Linked DNA regions of Homo sapiens: region 1 is linked to region 2. The links come from fine-mapping of genetic effects on plasma protein levels. A gene starts in region 2. The other region holds a variant in brackets. All regions are shown on one strand. Distances are between the middles of the regions.

Region 1 (8,320 bases), 19 kb after region 2:
CTTCCATCGCTGCTTTCTTTCCCTAACACACAATCCCCACCCCATTTTAGCCATACTTTCTATTTTATTTTTTTTATTTTTGGAGACAGGGTCTGGCTGTTGCCCAGGCTGGAATGCAGTGGCACGATCTCAGCTCACTGCAGCCTCAACCTCCTGGGCTCAGGTTATCCTCCCACCTCATCCTCCTGAGTGGCAGGGACTGCACTACAAACACGCGCCATCTCGCCCAGCTAATTTTTGTAGTTTTGGTAGAGACGGTGTTTCACTGTGTCGCCCAGGCTGGTCTCAAACTCCTGGCCTCAAGTGATCCTCCCTCCTTGGCCTCCCAAAGTGCTGGGATTACAGGTGTGAGCCACTGCGCCCAGCCCATCAATTTCCTTCCTATACACTCCTTCCTAACCTTCTGCTATAGCTCACTTTTATCCTTAACATGACTGCAAATGCCTTGCCTGCTGATTTCCTTAATGCCCAAACCTGCGTTTTTCCCTCTATACTTTCCCTTGCTCATCTGCTGAATTTGCCACTGTCTATTACCATTCCTTCTAAAATGCTTCTCCTTCTTGGTTTCCAGGACACAGTGTCTCCTGGTTCTCTTCTCACCTCTTTTTTTTTTTTTTTTTTTTTTTTTTTTTGAGAGCAAGTTTCACTCTCATTGCCCAGGTTGGAGTGCAATGGCATGATCTTGGCTCACCGCAACCTCCACCTCCTGGTCTCAAGCGATTCTCCTGCCTCAGCCTCCTGAGTAGCCGGGATTACAGGCAGGCTCTACCACACCCGACTAATTTTTTTTGTATTTTTAGTAGAGACGGGGTTTCTCCATGTTGGTAAGGCTGGTCTCAAACTCCCGACCTCAGGTGATCCGCCTGCCTTGGCCTCCCAAAGTGCTGGGATTACAGGTGTGAGCCACTGCACCTGGCCCCCCTTCTCACCTCTCCAATCACCAGAGCTTGAGCCAGTGAGGGAGAGCACTTTGTGTCTGTTTTTATTTTTTTATTTTATTTTTTATTTTTTTGAGACGGAGTTTCACTCTTGTTGCCCAGGCTGGAGTGCAATGGCGCGATCTTGGCTCACCGCAACCTCTGCCTCCCAGGTTCAAGCAATTCTCCTGCCTCAGCCTCCCGAGTAGCTGGGATTACAGGCATGCACCACCACGCCCGGCTAATTTTGTATTTTTAGTAGAGACGGGGTTTCTCCATGTTGAGGCTGGTCTCGAACTCTTGACCTCAGGTGGTCTGCCCGCCTTGGCCTCCCAAAATGCTGGGATTACAGGCATGAGCCACTGCGCCCGGCCTATTTTTTTTTTTTTTTTTTTTTTTTTTAAGAGACAGGGTCAGGCTGGGCGTGGTGGCTCACGCCTGTAATCCCAACACTTTGGGAGGCCGAGGCGGGCGGATCACGAGGTCAGGAGATCGAGACCATCCTGGCTAACACGGTGAAACCCCATCTCTACTAAAAATACAAAAAATTAGCCGGCCGTGGTGGCGGGCGCCTGTAGTCCCAGCTACTCGGGAGGCTGAGGCAGGAGAATGGCGTGAACCCGGGAGGCGGAGCTTGCAGTGAGCCGAGATAGCACCACTGCACTCCA[G/A]CCTGGGCAACGAGCGAGACTCCGTCTCAAAAAAAAAAAAGAGACAGGGTCTTGGCCAGGCGTGGTGGCTCTTACCTGGAGTGCAGTGGCATGATCATAGCTCACTGCAGCCTCGAACTCCTAGGCTCAAGCAATCCTCCTGCCTTAGTCTTCCAAAGTGCTGGGACTACAGGTGTGAGCCACCACAACCAGCCTCATTTTTCTCCTTTTAGTTCTAGTCAGCCATCAGATTATGTTGATTTTCTTCTCTTAAAAGAACCCCTGTGGCCAGGCATGGTGGCTCACACCTTGTAATCCCAGCACTTTGGGAGCGTAAAGCAAGAGAATCGCTTGAGCTCAGGAGTTCCAGACCAGTCTGGGTAGACAGCAAGACGCTCTCTCTACAAAAAAAATTTTTTTGGCTTGTCTTTGTTTTTTGAGACGGGGTCTTGCTCTGTCGCCCAGGCTGGAGTGCAATGGCGCGATCTCGGCTCACTGCAACCTCCGCCTCCTGGGCTTAAGCGATTCTCCTGCCTCAGCCTCCCGAGCAGCTGGGATTACAGGCGCCTGCCACCACGCCCAGCTAATTTTTGTGATCTGCCCACCTCGGCCTCCCAAAGTGCTGAGACTACAGACGTGAGCCACCACGCCTAGCCAAAAAAAATTTTTTAATTAGCTGGAGTTCTAATTACCCAGGAGTTCTAGGTTACAGGGAGTTATGATGGCACCATTGCACTCTAGCCTGGGTGTCAGAACCAGACCCTGTCTAAAAAAGAAAAAAAGGCCAGGCCGGGCACGGTGACTCACACCTGTAATCCCAGCAATTTGGGAGGCCAAGATGGGTGGATCAGTTGAGGTCAGGAGTTTGAGACCCGCCTGGCCAACATGGTGATACCCTGTCTCTACAAAAATACAAAAAAATTAGCCGGGTGTGGTGGTGCACACCTGTAATTCCAGCTACTCAGGAGGTTGAGACAGGAGAATTGCTTGAACCCAGGATGTAGAGGTTACAGTGAGCCAAGATCATGCCATTGTACTCCAGCCTAGGTGACAGAGCAAGACTTCATCTCAAAAAAAAAAAAAAAAAAAGAAAGCGGGCACAGTGGCTCATGCCTGTAATCCCAGCACTTTGGGAGGCCAAGGCAGGCAGATCACCTGAGGTCAGGAGTTTGAGACCAGCCTGGCCCAACACGGTGAAACCCAGTCTCTACCAAAAATACAAAAATTAGCCGGGCATGGTGGTGCATGCCTGTAATCCCAGCTACTCAGGAGGCTGAGGCAGGAGAATCGGTTGAACCCGGGAGGTGGAGGTTGCAGTGAGCCAAGATCTCACCACTGCTCTCCAGCCTAGGCGACAGAGTGAGACTCTGTCTCAAAAAAAAAAAAAAAAGAAAAGAAAAAAAGGCCCCTGTGAAATGTCAAGAAGTCCTGGATTGTTTTAAAATGCTTAAGAAGAGACAGAATGGATAAAGTAGACATGACAAAATCTTGATAAAACCTTGGAATCTGGGTGATGGTATATGAGAATTCATTATACAATTCTCTTTACTTTTGTGAAGTTTGAAATTTTCATTATTAAAAGAACAGATTTTCTTCATGAAAAAAATTGTGAGTTTTTTTTGAGACAGAGTTTCACTCTTGTCGCCCAGGCTGGAGGGCAATGGCACAACAGTCTTGGCTCACCGCAACCTCCGCCTCCCAGGTTCAAGCGATTCTCCTGCCTCAGCCTCCCGAGTAGCTGGGATTACAGGCATGTGCCACCATGCCCGGCTAATTTTTTGTTGTTCTTGTACTTTTAGTAGTGACAGGGTTTCTCCATGTTGGTCAGGCTGGTCTTGACTCCCGACCTCAGGTTATCCACCCGCTTCGGCATCCCAAAGTGCTGAGATGACAGGCATGAGCCACCACGCCCGGCGGAAAAAATTGTTTTAATGAATCCATAAGCATCATTAACTCAAATTCCCTGGATACCACCTTAGTCTAGGTCTTTCAGGCTGACCTCCCTGACCTGCTCTTTTTAATCCTGTTTAGCCTTCCTCAAATGCTATTTTTATCATGTTGCTTGCTTGCTCAGAAACCACTAATAAACCCCTTTGGTGTCTCACAGCAGACCCAACTGCACTGCCTGATTTTCAAATGTAACCATGATTTGGGCCTAACTTTCCCAGACAATCTGGTTTCTGCAAGTCCCAGGTCCAAACCTCTACAGAGGCCAGGCCAGACTCCTCTGGGATCTACAACTTCCCTTCATTTGGAAAGCCCTGTTTCCCGCTCTTGCCTAGACAAACCTGAGCCAATCTCAAGCCCCCTGTACCCATAAAAGCTTTCTTGGGGCAGGCGCTGTGGCTCACGCCTGTAATCCCAGCGCTTTGGGAGGCCGAGGCAGGCGGATCACGAGGTCAGGAGTGAGTTCGAGACCAGCCTGGCCAACATGATGAAACCCTACCTCTACTACAAATACAAAAAATTAGCTGGGGGTGGTGGCAGGCACCTGTAATCCCAACTACTTGGGAGGCTGAGGCAGGAGAATCACTTGAACCCAGGAGGCGGAGGTTGCAGTGAGCCGAGACCGTGCCACTGCACTCCAGCCTGGGCAACAAGAACAAGACTGTGTTTCAAAAAAAAAAAAAAAAAAAAAGCTTTCTTGGGCCAGGCATGGTGGCTCACACCTGTAATCCCAACACTTTGGAAGATCAAGGCAGGAGGAGGGCTTGAGCTTAGGAGTTCGAGACCAGACTAGGCAACACAGCAAGATCCTGTCTCTATTTAAAAAAAAAAATTTTTTTTTTAAAAAGCTTTCTCAACTGATTATTCCAATCTTTACTAAATCTGTTTATTTGAACATGCACAGCATATAAATCAAGAACCACACAATTTCACAATCATGCGTTGTCATTTATCATTAATTATGTGCTTTTCTTTGTTTGTTTGCTTGGTTGTTTTTTGAGAAGGAGTTTCGTTCTTGTTGCCCAGGCTGGAGTGCAATGGTGCGATTTCAGCTCATTACAACCTCTGCCTCCCGGGTTCAAATGATTCTCCTGTCTCAGCCTCCTGAGTAGCTGGGATTATAGGCATGCACCACCATGCCTGGCTAATTTTGTATTTTTAGTAGAGACAGGGTTTCACTGTGTTGGTCAGGCTGGTCTTGAACTCCTGACCTCAGGTGATCCCCTGCCTCGGCCTCCCAAAGTGCTCGGATTACAGGCGTGAGCCACCGTGCCCGGCCAATTATGTTATTTTTGTGTCTTCCCAAATATTACAAAGTTCTTGCATATAAAGTGGGCCATGTTTTATACTTTGGTTTTTGTTTGTTGTTTGAGACAATCTCCCTCTGTCGCCCAGGCTGGAGTGCAATGGCACGATCTTGGCTCACTGCAACCTCTGCCACCCATGTTCATGCAATTCTCCTGCCTCAGCCTCCCGAGTAGCTGGGACTATAGGCGCCCGCCACCACGCCTGGCCAATCTTTTATTTTTAGTAGAGACTGGGTTTCGACATATTGGCCAGGCTGGTCTCAAACTCCTGAGCTCAAGTGATCCGCCCCCTCAGCCTCTCAAAATGCTGGGATTATAGGTGTGAGCCACTGAGCCCAGCCTATACTTTGGTTCTGACCACTAAGAAGCACAGTAGTTAGTGTTATAATGTACTACATAGTGTAACGTATGTACACCATACATTCTAGGCACCCAGTAAATATTTCAGCATTGGCAGACTGACTTCAGCCCTCAGAGGAGCCTCTCTAGGGCTTAAAGAAATAAGTCTCCAATTAGCTACAATTATTGCCAGACCCATAAGCATGATACCCTCCCATGTATCTGTTCCCTCATTATTGATTGAGTTCTGACTACTGCCCGGCTACGTTATGGTCTATGTATCTAGCCATCCTAGGCATTGGAAACCCAGCAGTTTATAGCACATGCTATTGGTGTTCAGCTCATATTTTCCTCAGAACATGCTAAAGGCCACGTTCGAACAGTTTCCTTTCTTTTTGTTTTTTTATTGAGATAGAGTCTCACTCTGTTGTCCAGGCTGGAGTGCAGTGGCACAATCTTGGCTCACTGCAACCTCTGCCTCCCAGGTTCAGGCGACTCTCGTGCCTCAGCCTCCCAAATAGCTGAGACTACAGGCGTGCGCCACTATGCCCAGGTAATTTTTTGTATTTTTAGTAGAGATGGGGTTTCACCGTGTGGGCCAGGATGGTCTCGAACTCCTGACCTCAAGTGATCTGCCTGCCTCTGCCTCCCAAAGTGCTGGGATTACAAGCATGAGCCACCGCACCCGTCCCAGTTTCCTTTCTCTGTTTTTTTGTTTGTTTTTTTTTTTGACGGAGTTTTGTTCTTGTTGCCCAGGCTGCAGGCTGGAGTACAATGGCACAATCTCGGCTCACCGCAACCTCCGCCTCTTGGGTTCAAGCTATTCTCCTGTCTAAGCCTCCCGAGTCGCTAGGATTACAGGCATGCACCACCACGCCCAGCTAATTTTGTATTTTTAGTAGAGACAGGGTTTCTCCATGTTGGTCAGGCTGGTCTCGAACTCCTGACCTCAGGTGATCCGCCCAACTCAGCCTCCCAAAGTGCTGGGATTACAGGCGCGAGCCACCGTGCCCAGCCAATTTCCTTTCTTAAAAAAATTTTTTGTAGAGACGGAGTCTGGCTGTGTTACCCAGGCAGGTCTTGATCTCCTGGCCTCAAGTAATCCTCCTGCTTCAGCCTCCTGAGTTGCTGGGATGACAGATATGAACCACAGCACCCTGGTGGACACAATTTTCTTTCTTTCTTTTTTTTTTTTTTTTGAGACGGAGTCTCGCTCTGTCACCCAGGCTGGAGTGCAGTGGCGCGATCTCGGCTCACCACAAGCTCCACCTCCCAGGTTCACGCCATTCTCCTGCCTCAGCCTCCCGAGTAGCTGGGACTACAGGCGTCCGCCACCGCGCCCAGCTAATTTTTTGTATTTTTAGTAGAGACGGGGTTTCACCATGTTAGCCAGGATGGTCTCGATCAACTGACCTCGTGATCCGCCTGCCTCAGCCTCCCAAAGTGTTGGGATTACAGGCGTGAGCCGCCGCGCCCAGCCTACACAATTTTCTTACAAGCAGTTTCCTGTGTCTCTCTTGCCTCAGATGTTCTCTGCCCACGGAAGCCTCCTTGGGAGGAGCAGAGTCAAAATGTTAGGGAATTAATTCCCCTAGAGTGATCCTGGACCCATGAGGGATGAGAGATGGTGAATAAATACCCTAGCTTCAAGGCCAAGCACAGTGGCTCACACTAGTCATCCCAGCACTTTGAGATGCCAAGGCAGGAGGATCACATGAGCCCAGGAGTTCGAGACCAGCCTGGGCAACATAGTAAGACTTCGTCTCTACAAAAAATAAAAATTAAATTAAAAATTAGCTGGGCACGGTGGCGTTTGCCTGTAGTCCCAGCTACTTAGGAGGCTGGGGTGAAAGGATCACTTGAGCCCAAGAGATTGAGGCTGAAGTGAGCTATAATCACACCACCACATCCCAGTCTGTGTGACAGAGTGAAAGCCTGTCATACACACACACACACACACACACACACGTGCACACACAAACACAAAAGAAAATAAAAGAAAATCACCCTAGCTTGCTCAACTTTCTTTTTTTTTTTTCTTTTTGAGACGGAGTTTTGCTCTGTTGCCCAGGCTGGGGTGTGGTGGCATGATCTCAGCTCATGATCTCAGCTCACTGCAACCTCTACCTCCCAGGTTCAAGCGATTCTCCTGCCTCAGCCTCCTGAGTAGCTGGAATTACAGGTGCGTGCCACCACTTCCAACAGATTTTTGTATTTTTAGTAGAGACGGGGTTTCACCATGTTGACCAGATTGGTCTTGAACTCCTGACCTCAGGTAATCTGCCTGCCTTGGCCTCCCAAAGTGCTGGGATTACAGGCGTGAGCCACCACACCCGGCCTCAACTTTCTTTAAAAAAAAAAAAAAAAAAAAAAAATATATATATATATATATATATATATATATATAAAATTTACTTTACTTATATAGAGACAGAGTCTCACTGTGTTTGCCAGGTTGGTCCTGAACTGTTAGCCTCAAGCAATCTTCCTGCCTCAGCCTTCCAAAGTGCTAGGATTACAGGTATGAGCCACTGTGCACCATCCTCAACTTTTTTTTTTCTTTTTTTCTTTTTTTTTGCACTGTTGCCCAGGCTGGAGTGTAGTGGTGCAATCTCGGCTCACTGCAGCAACCTCTGCCTCCCAAGAGATTTTCCTGCCTCAGCCTCCCAAGCAGCTGGGATTACAGGCATGTGCCACCACGACTGGCTAATTTTTGTATTTTTAGTAGAAATGGGGTTTCACCATGTTGGCCAGGCTGGTCTCGAACTCCTGAGCTCATGTGATCTGCCCACCTCAGCCTCCCAAAATGCTGGGATTACAGGCGTGAGCCACTGCGCCCGGCCCCAGTCCTCAAGTTTCATTGAGACAATCCTCAGGCATGTCCTAGACAGTTGGAGGGTCCCTCACAGGACTGAACCCCAGTGCCCAAGGCAGTAACCCACTCATTAACACACACTTTCTTGGCTTTCCTCTCTTTCCTGTTTTACATCCTTGCTCCGTCAATGAATTTACTGGAATCAACTGCAAAATAAACAACTTGCTCTGAAATCCTTTTCTCAAGGTCTAAGACTGTGGTGATCAAGACAGCCAAGGTCCCTACTCTCCCAAAACAACACACGGGTTTGCGTTCAAACCGTGTACAGCTCCTGCACCTGTCCATGCA
Region 2 (8,330 bases):
TTCTGGGGCTGCAGAGGCAGGACCATTCAGTCAAGCTGATGTGGGATTCTGACCTAACCAAGTCCCCCTCCATTAGTCCTCATAGCCCCCACCTCCCATGGGGCAGCCCTGAGACAGGCTCTGTGACAATCCACAGCAGCCCTGTCCAACAGAACCTTCTGTGATCATGGAAACATTCTGTGGCTGCCAATCTGGCAGCCACTCGCCACATGTGTCTATGAGCCTTGAAATGTGGCCATTGTGACTGAGAAACTGAACTTTTAATGGTATTTCATTTTTATTTTTATTTTTTTTTTATTTATTTTGAGGCAGAGTCTCACTCTGTCACCCGGGCTGGAGTGCAGTGGCACTCGGCTCACTGCAAGCTCCGCCTCCCGGGTTCACGCCATTCTCCTGCCTCAGCCTCGGGAGTACCTGGGACAACAGGCACCCGCCACCACGCCCGGCTAATTTTTTGTATTTTTAGTAGAGATGGGGTTTCACCATGGTCTCGATCTCCTGACCTCAGGTGATCCACCCGCTTCGGCCTCCCGAAGTGCTGGGACTGCAGGCATGAGCCACCACGCCCGGCCCAGAAAAGAGATGATTAAACATAAAGCAGCCATGTGATGAAATGGCACTTTGCCTCTGTGGTCTTCCTCCCCCAAACCCATAACTGTAATCTAATTATGAGAAAAACACAGGACAATTCCAATAGAGAGCCAGGTGCAGTGGTTCACGCCTGTAATCCCAGCACTTTGGGAGGCTGAGGCGGGCAGATCATGAGGTCAAGAAATCAAGACCATCCTGGCCAACATGGTGAAACCCCGTCTCTACTAAAAATACAAAAATTAGCTGGACGCAGTGGTGTGCACCTGTAGTCCCAGCTACTCGGGAGGCTGAGGCAGGAGAATCATTTGAACCCGGGAGGCAGAGGTTGCAGTGAGCTGAGATCGCGCCACTGCACTCCAGCCTGGTGACAGAGTGAGACTCCGTCTCAAAAATAAATAAAAATAAATAAATAAAAATTAGCTGGGCGTGGTGGCACGTGCCTGTAATCCCAGCTACTCAGAGGCTGAGGCACAAGAATCACTTGAACCTGGGAGACAGAGATTGCAGTGAGCCGAGATTGTGCCACTGCACTCCAGCCTGGGCGACAGAGTGAGACTACAACAAACACACACACACACACCCACACACACACACACACAAATTCCAAGAGAGGGTCATCCTGACCAATACTCCTCAAAACTATCAAGGTTGCTGGGCACAGTGGCTCACGCCTGTGATCCCAATGCTTTGGGAGGCTTAGATGGGAGGATCACTTGAGGCCAGGAGTTCAAGACCAGCCTGGGCAACATAGGGAGACGCCGTGTCTCCAAAAATTTTTTTGAGACAGAGTCTCGCTGTGTCGCCCAGGCCGGAGTACAGTGGCGTGATCTCGGCTCACTGCAAACTCTGCCTCCTGGGTTCACGCCATTCTTCTGCCTCAGCCTCCCAAGTTGCTGAGATTACAGGCACCCGCCACCATGCCCAGCTTATTTTTTGTATCTTTAGTAGAGACAAGGTTTCACTGTGTTAGCCAGGATGGTCTCCATCACCTGACCTCGTGATCCGCCTGCCTCGGTCTCCCCAAGTGCTGGGATTACAGGTATGAGCCACCGTGCCTGGCCCAAAAAATTTTTTTAAATTAGCCAGGTGTGGTGACACATGTCTGTAGTCCCCACTAATCGGGAGGCTAAGGTGGGAGGATTGCTTGAGCCCAGGAGGTTGAGGCTGCAGTGAACTATGATCGTGTCACTGCACATCAGTCTGGGAAACAGAGCGACACTTTGTCTCAAAAAAAAAAAACAGATAAATAAATTAAATAACCAGGCCCTCCTTATCCCACAGGGTTGTTGTAGAGGTGACATAGGAACAGAAGAGCACCAAGTTAACCAATTATAAATCTATATAGAGAGAAGCAGATCAGAGGCCAGGCACAGTGGCTCATGCCTATAATCCCAGCATTTTGGGAGGCTGAGGAGTGGATCACCTGAGGTCAAGAGTTTGAGACCAGCCTGACCAACATGGTGAAACCTTGTCTCTACTAAAAATACAAAAATTATCCAGGCATGCTGGCAGGCGCCTGTAATTCCCAGCTACACGAGAGGCTGAGGCAGGAGAATCGCTTGAACCTGGGAGGCGGAGGTTGCAGTAAGCCGAGATCGTGCCATTGCACTCCAGCCTGGGCGACAAGAGCGAAACTCTGTCTCAAAAAAAAAAGAGAGAGAGAGAGAGAAGCAGATTAGCAGTTACCAGGGGCTGAGGGAGTGTGACTGCTAATGGGTACAGGGTTTCCTTCTGGAGTGATAAAAATGTTCTGGAACCCCATAGAGGTGATGGTTGCACAACACTGTGAAGGTACTAAATGCCCCCGAATTGTTTACTTAAACGTGGTTAATGTTATGTGAATTTCAGCTAAACAATGTTATGTAGATATTTGGCCGGGCGCGGTGGCTCACGCCTGTAATCCCAGCATTTTGGGAGGCCGAGGCAGGTGGATCACGAGGTCAGGAGATCGAGACCATCCTGGCTAATGCGGTGAAACCCCATCTCTACTAAAAATACAAAAAAAAAAATTAACCGGGCGTGGTGGTGGGTGCCTGTAGTCCCAGCTACTTGGGAGGCTGAGGCAGGAGAATGGCATGAACCTGGGAGGCAGAGCTTGCAGTGAGCCAAGATCGCGCCATTGCACTCCAGCCTAGGCAACAGAGCAAGACTCCGTCTCAAAAAATATATATAAATAAATAGATATGTGATGTGACAGGTTTTTTTTTGAGATGGAGTTTTGCTCTTGTTCCCTAGGCTGGAGTGCAATGGCGTGATCTCAGCTCACCGCAACCTCCGCCTCCAGGGTTCAAGCCATTCTCCTGCCTCGGCCTCCGGAGTAGCTGGGATTACAGGCATAAGCCACCATGCCTGGCTAATTTTGTGTTTTTAGTAGAGACAGGGTTATTCCATGTTGGTCAGGCTGGTCTCGAACTCTCCACCTCAGGTGATCTGCCAGCCTCAGCCTCCCAAAGTGCTGGGATTACAGGCATGAGCCACCGTGCCTGGCCTCTGATATGACAGTTCTAATGCCCTTTAGTATTCTATAATTCAGACTCAGGCCTTTGGAATCCAAAGCCCAGGTTTTTCTCACAAACCCACACTGCAGAGCGGAGTGGTGGAAAAAAATAAAACCTCTGCCTTGGAATCAGACAGATCTAAACTGGAGCCCTATTTTGTCATTTGCCAACTGTGTGACCTTGGGCAAGTTACCGCAACTCTCTGAACCTGTCTCTTTATCTGCAAGGTGCACGACTGATGGGACTATTCAACCAGACCCAGTGCACAGATTCAGGCACTTGATAAGACATTGAGGCTGCAGGCAGCGATCTTTTTTCTTTCTTTCTTTTTTTTTTTTTTTTTTTGAAATAGGGTCTCACTCTGCTGCAGAGGCTCAATCACTGTTCATTGCAGCCTTGACCTCCCTGGCTCAAGAGATCCTCCCATCTCAGCCTCCTGAGTTGCTGGGATCACAGGTGCAATCCACCACCACACCTGGTTAACATTTTTTTTTTTAGAGATGAGGTCTCTCTATGTTGCCCAGGCTGCACTTCCTTCTTGTCTCCCTTATCCCAGCGTCCGACTGAACTGACGGCTTTGCTTTCCCCAACCAGCCCGTGAAGCTGGGCTGAGTACAAAGTGGTGGGTATGAGGGTCAAGATTGTAAGATCTGAAAACTCCAGAAACCATCCCTTTGGTTAACAGTTGCTAAGGACAAATGCATAACATATTTTCCAGTGATCCCATGCTGGCAAATCGTCAGGGTCATTCCTGCAACAGACAGATTCAAGGCCAGCCCCAAACTCAGCCAAGAGCAAAGCAAACACTCCAGCCTTATCTGGGCAGGGTTGTGTGGAGACTGACTATAAGACTATACCTGAGACTGGTCATCTCAGTTCTTTTCTCACCTTGACTGCAAGATGAAACTCCTTGTGCTAGCTGTGCTGCTCACAGGTAGGCAAGTCTCCCCGGCTCCACCCGCCTTTCTCTCCCAAGTGAGCTAAGATCTCACTCCTCTGGAATGGGGGCCACAGGCCACAGCAAACAGGGATGGCCAGCCCCGCAGTCTCAATTCGAGGTTCCCAGTGGGGCTTAAGGGCTCCTCTATTGGGGTTCCCTCAAGGCTGGCACTTTTTCAACCTGCAAGTCTGAACTCAGATTGCCTGAGCTAAGAAAGCTTGCCTTTATTTTCTTTTTTCCAGACAGGGTCTTGCTCTATCACCCAGGCTGGAGTTCAGTGGCATGATCATAGCTCACCACAGCTTCCAACTCGTGGGCTCAAGTGATCCTCCCACCTTACTCAACTAAGTAGTTAGGCCAATCTCCCATTTATTTTATTTTATTTTAATTTTTATTTTTATTTTACTTTATTTTATTTTTGAGACGGGGCTCACTCTGTCGCCCAGGCTGGAGTGCGGTGGCGTGATCTCAGATCACTACAACCTCCATCTCCTGGGTTCAAATAATTCTCTTGCCTCAGCCTCTCAAGTAGCTGGGACTTGTAGCTCTCAAGTAGCTGGCACACACCACCATGCCCAGCTAATTTTTTGTGTGTTTTTTTTGGTAGAGACAGGTTTTCACCATGTTGGCCAGGCTGGGTGACCTCCCTTTTAGATTCTCCTCATCCTGCTCTATTCTTCCCCTTTCTAATGCAGTATCCAGTTTCCTTACTTATCACATTTATTATTATTCTTATTATTATTGAGACAGAGTCTTGCTTTGTCGCCAAGGCTGGAGTACAGTGGTGCGATCTCGGCTCACTGCAAGCTCCACCTGCTGGGTTCACGCCATTCTCCCGCCTCAGCCTCCCCAGTAGCTGGGACTAAAGGCGCCTGCCACCACGCCCCGCTAATTTTTTTGTATTTTTAATAAAGACGGGGTTTCATCGTGTTAGCCAGGATGGTCTCGATCTCATGACCTTGTGATCCGCCTGCCTCGGCCTCCCAAAGTGCTGGGATTACAGGCATGAGCCACCGTGCCCGGCCTTATCACATTTATTATTTATTGTTTTTCTCTCCCACTAGGTTGTAAGCTCCATGAGGTTAGAGATTATTATTATTATTATTATTATTATTATTATTATTATTATTATTATATCTGTTCACTGCTGTATCTCTAGCTCCTAGGACAGAGCCTGGCACATAGTAAGTGCTCAATAAATATTCACTGGATAAACAGTGCAGATAGTTTAAAACTATCTGACCTAGGGAGGCTGAGGCAGGAGAATGGCGTGAACCCGGGAAGCAGAGTTTGCAGTGAGCTGAAATCGTGTCACTGCACTCCAACCTGGGCAACAGAGCAAGACTCCATCTCAAAAAAAAAAAAAAAACTATCAGGCCTAGCTGGGTGGCACATGCCTGTAATCCTAGCTGAGGCGGTAGGGTCCCAGAAGAAGAAGAAGAAGAAAAAGAAGAAGATATATATATATATACACACACACAAAGATATAAACTTTATATATATAAAGTTTTCATTAAAAAAAAAAAAAAACCTCTACCCACTTTCACTTTACCAGGTTCCTGGGTCCAACGGTCTTCAGAGGAGGCAGCTGGCAGGGGTCAGGGAGGCAGCGTGGGACCCGAGGGAGCAGGAAGGCAGTGTGTCCCCGGGGTGCTGGCAGACCGATTTGAACTCTGGCTATGTCTTCTTGCAGTGGCCGCCGCCGACAGCGGCATCAGCCCTCGGGCCGTGTGGCAGTTCCGCAAAATGATCAAGTGCGTGATCCCGGGGAGTGACCCCTTCTTGGAATACAACAACTACGGCTGCTACTGTGGCTTGGGGGGCTCAGGCACCCCCGTGGATGAACTGGACAAGTAAGTGATCCGCCTGCAGGAAAATTGGAGTGCCTGCCGGGGGCGGGGTGGGGCACACGCCAAGGATCTCACGAGGCATACAAAGGGGACTTGCATATCTGCTAAGGATAACATATTTTCACCTCTTGTCAAATAAACAAATATGTTCCAAGAGGACCCTGTAGCGAACGCACCCCGTTAGAGATGGAAACAATGACCGACGTGCAAAACAGTGGGCGATGCTGCCCTCCAGTGGCAGAATGTAGCAACAGTAAACATCACAGCAACTATCCACGTGTCATTTTCTAGCAGTGGTTGTCACTGCACCTTCTGAATACAGGATTTTACTGTATTCTTGCAACCATGTTAAAAATCGCTTTCAGGCCAGGCGCGGTGGCTCATGCCTGTAATCCCAGCACTTTGGGAGGCCGAGGCGGGCGGATCACTTGAGGTCAGGAGTTCGAGACCAGCCTGGCCAACATGGTGAAACCCTGTCTCTACTAAAAAATACAAAAATTAGCCGGACATGGTGGCGAGCGCCTGTAACCCCAGCTACTTGGGAGACTGAGTTGGAGGTTTCAGTGAGCCAAGGTCGTGTCACTGCTGTCCAGCCTGGGTAACAGAGCAACTCTGTCTCAAAAAAAAAAAATGCTTTCAATAAATATATGATAAAAGGACTTATATTTTTTCAAGCCATAGGATCATTTCTCCTGAAGCATCTTGGCGAAGTCATCCCCACCTGTTCCTGAGAGTGGGCAGGTGAGGGCTGACCTATTGCTCTGCACTTACTCCTATCTCAGCTGTCCCTCCCACTTTCCAGGTGCTGCCAGACACATGACAACTGCTATGACCAGGCCAAGAAGCTGGACAGCTGTAAATTTCTGCTGGACAACCCGTACACCCACACCTATTCATACTCGTGCTCTGGCTCGGCAATCACCTGTAGCAGTAGGTTTATCCCTTCCTTGACCTATGAATTCTAGTTGGTTCTCAGTAGGCCGGGGGGAAATAATAGTAACAACAGCCATGATTTAGTGTTAATTTTCTTGGTTCTGGGCAGTGTCTCCTTTAATCCTCAGAACAACACTATGGGATAGGTACAATTATCCTCACTTAACAGATAAGAAAACTGAGGCTCAGAAGGCTGAGCTATTTGCCCAAGATCACACAGCTTGTAAGTGGTGACAGTTTGGGTTTTTTTTTGTTGTTGTTTAGAGACAGGGTCTTGCTCTGTCACCCAGGCATGAGCACAGTGGTGCAACCATAGGTCACTGCAGCCTCAACCTCCTGAGCTCAAGGGATCTGCTGACCTCAGCCTCCCAAGTAGCTGGGACTACGAGCGTGCACCACCACGCCTGGCTAATTAAAAAAATTTTTTTGTAGAGACTGGGTCTTACTACGTTGGCCAGGCTTGTCTTAAACTCCTGGCTTCAAGCAATCCTCCTACCTTGGCATCCCAAAGTGCTGGGATTACAGGGGTGAGCCACCATGTGCGGCTACTTATTTCTTTACATTCCATCTTTCCAATAGAATGTAAGATCCACAGAACAGGGATTACTGCCTATTTTCTTCCTTTCTTTTTTGAGACAGAGTCTCACTTCATCACCTCAACCTCCGTTCAGCTCACTGCAACCTCTGCCTCCCGGGTTCAAGCGATTCTCCTGCCTAAGCCTCCTGAGTAGCTGGAATTACAAGCGTGCACCACCATGCTTGGCTAATTTTTTGTATTTTTAGCAGAGATGGGGTTTTACCATGTTGCCCAGGCTGGTCTCAAACTCCTGACCTCAAGTGATCTGCCTGCCTCAGTCTCCCAAAGTGCTGGAATTATAGGCGTGAGTCACTGTGCCTGGCCGATTACTGTCTATTTTCTTTATTGCTATATCCCCAGATCTAGAGCAGTGTCTGACATATAGTAGGTGCTCAATAAATAATTGATGAATGCACAGCCTAGATATAAACTTTCTTTTTCTTTTTTTAAAACAATCTTGACAACTTTGCAGAATAAATACAATCTTGCATTCTGCTTTTTCACTTATCACCTTGTTATGACTTTTTCATATTGCCTCAAACCTTTATTGTTACTGTTTTTTCATTGTTACTATTTTAGTCACTGAATAATATGGCTTAATTTGCTTATACATCCTCCTGCTCCACTTTAGAAGGCCAAATTTACAAATCTGATGAAAGCTATGAACCCTCTCCCCAGAGAAATACACACACACACACACACTCACACACAGTTTTTTTTTAATGTTTGCAACTAAGACAAGAAACCTGCATTAGAGGATGTTTGTTCATATTAATTAAAAATAACTCAGTTGGGCACAGTGACTCAAGCCTGTAACCACAGTACTTTGGAAGTCCAAGGTGGGTGGATCACTTGAGGTGAGAAGTTCGAGACCAGCCTGGTCAATATGGTGAAACCCTATCTCTACTAAAAATACAAAAATTAGCTGGGTGTAGTGATGC

Alleles and levels. Positions count from the first base shown, and alleles are read on the strand shown. Strength reflects both the effect of a copy and how common the allele is.
For the plasma level of the protein whose gene starts at base 3,964 in region 2, allele A in region 1 goes with a lower level than allele G (weak association).

The links. PIP is the posterior inclusion probability: the model's chance that the variant is causal. Protein levels are from antibody-based Olink assays in UK Biobank. Linkage for the fine-mapping came from a reference panel and not from the study's own genotypes, which makes the PIPs less certain.
Region 1: its variant is fine-mapped to the plasma level of the PLA2G1B protein (UK Biobank, PIP above 0.99).

What each region holds. Positions count from the first base shown.
Region 1 is chr12:120,304,048-120,312,367 of GRCh38, reverse strand. It overlaps SIRT4 (sirtuin 4), which reads right to left. Exons shown (of 4, transcript NM_012240.3): 2 at 8,310-8,320. Among named protein-coding and RNA genes, the nearest start is that of SIRT4, 5.9 kb to the right of the region's middle. The variant G/A (reference allele first, on the strand shown) is at 1,586.
Region 2 is chr12:120,323,413-120,331,742 of GRCh38, reverse strand. It overlaps PLA2G1B (phospholipase A2 group IB), which reads left to right and starts at 3,964. Exons shown (of 4, transcript NM_000928.3): 1 at 3,964-4,023; 2 at 5,723-5,882; 3 at 6,682-6,809. The coding sequence starts at 3,990. RefSeq lists an enhancer at 6,008-6,067.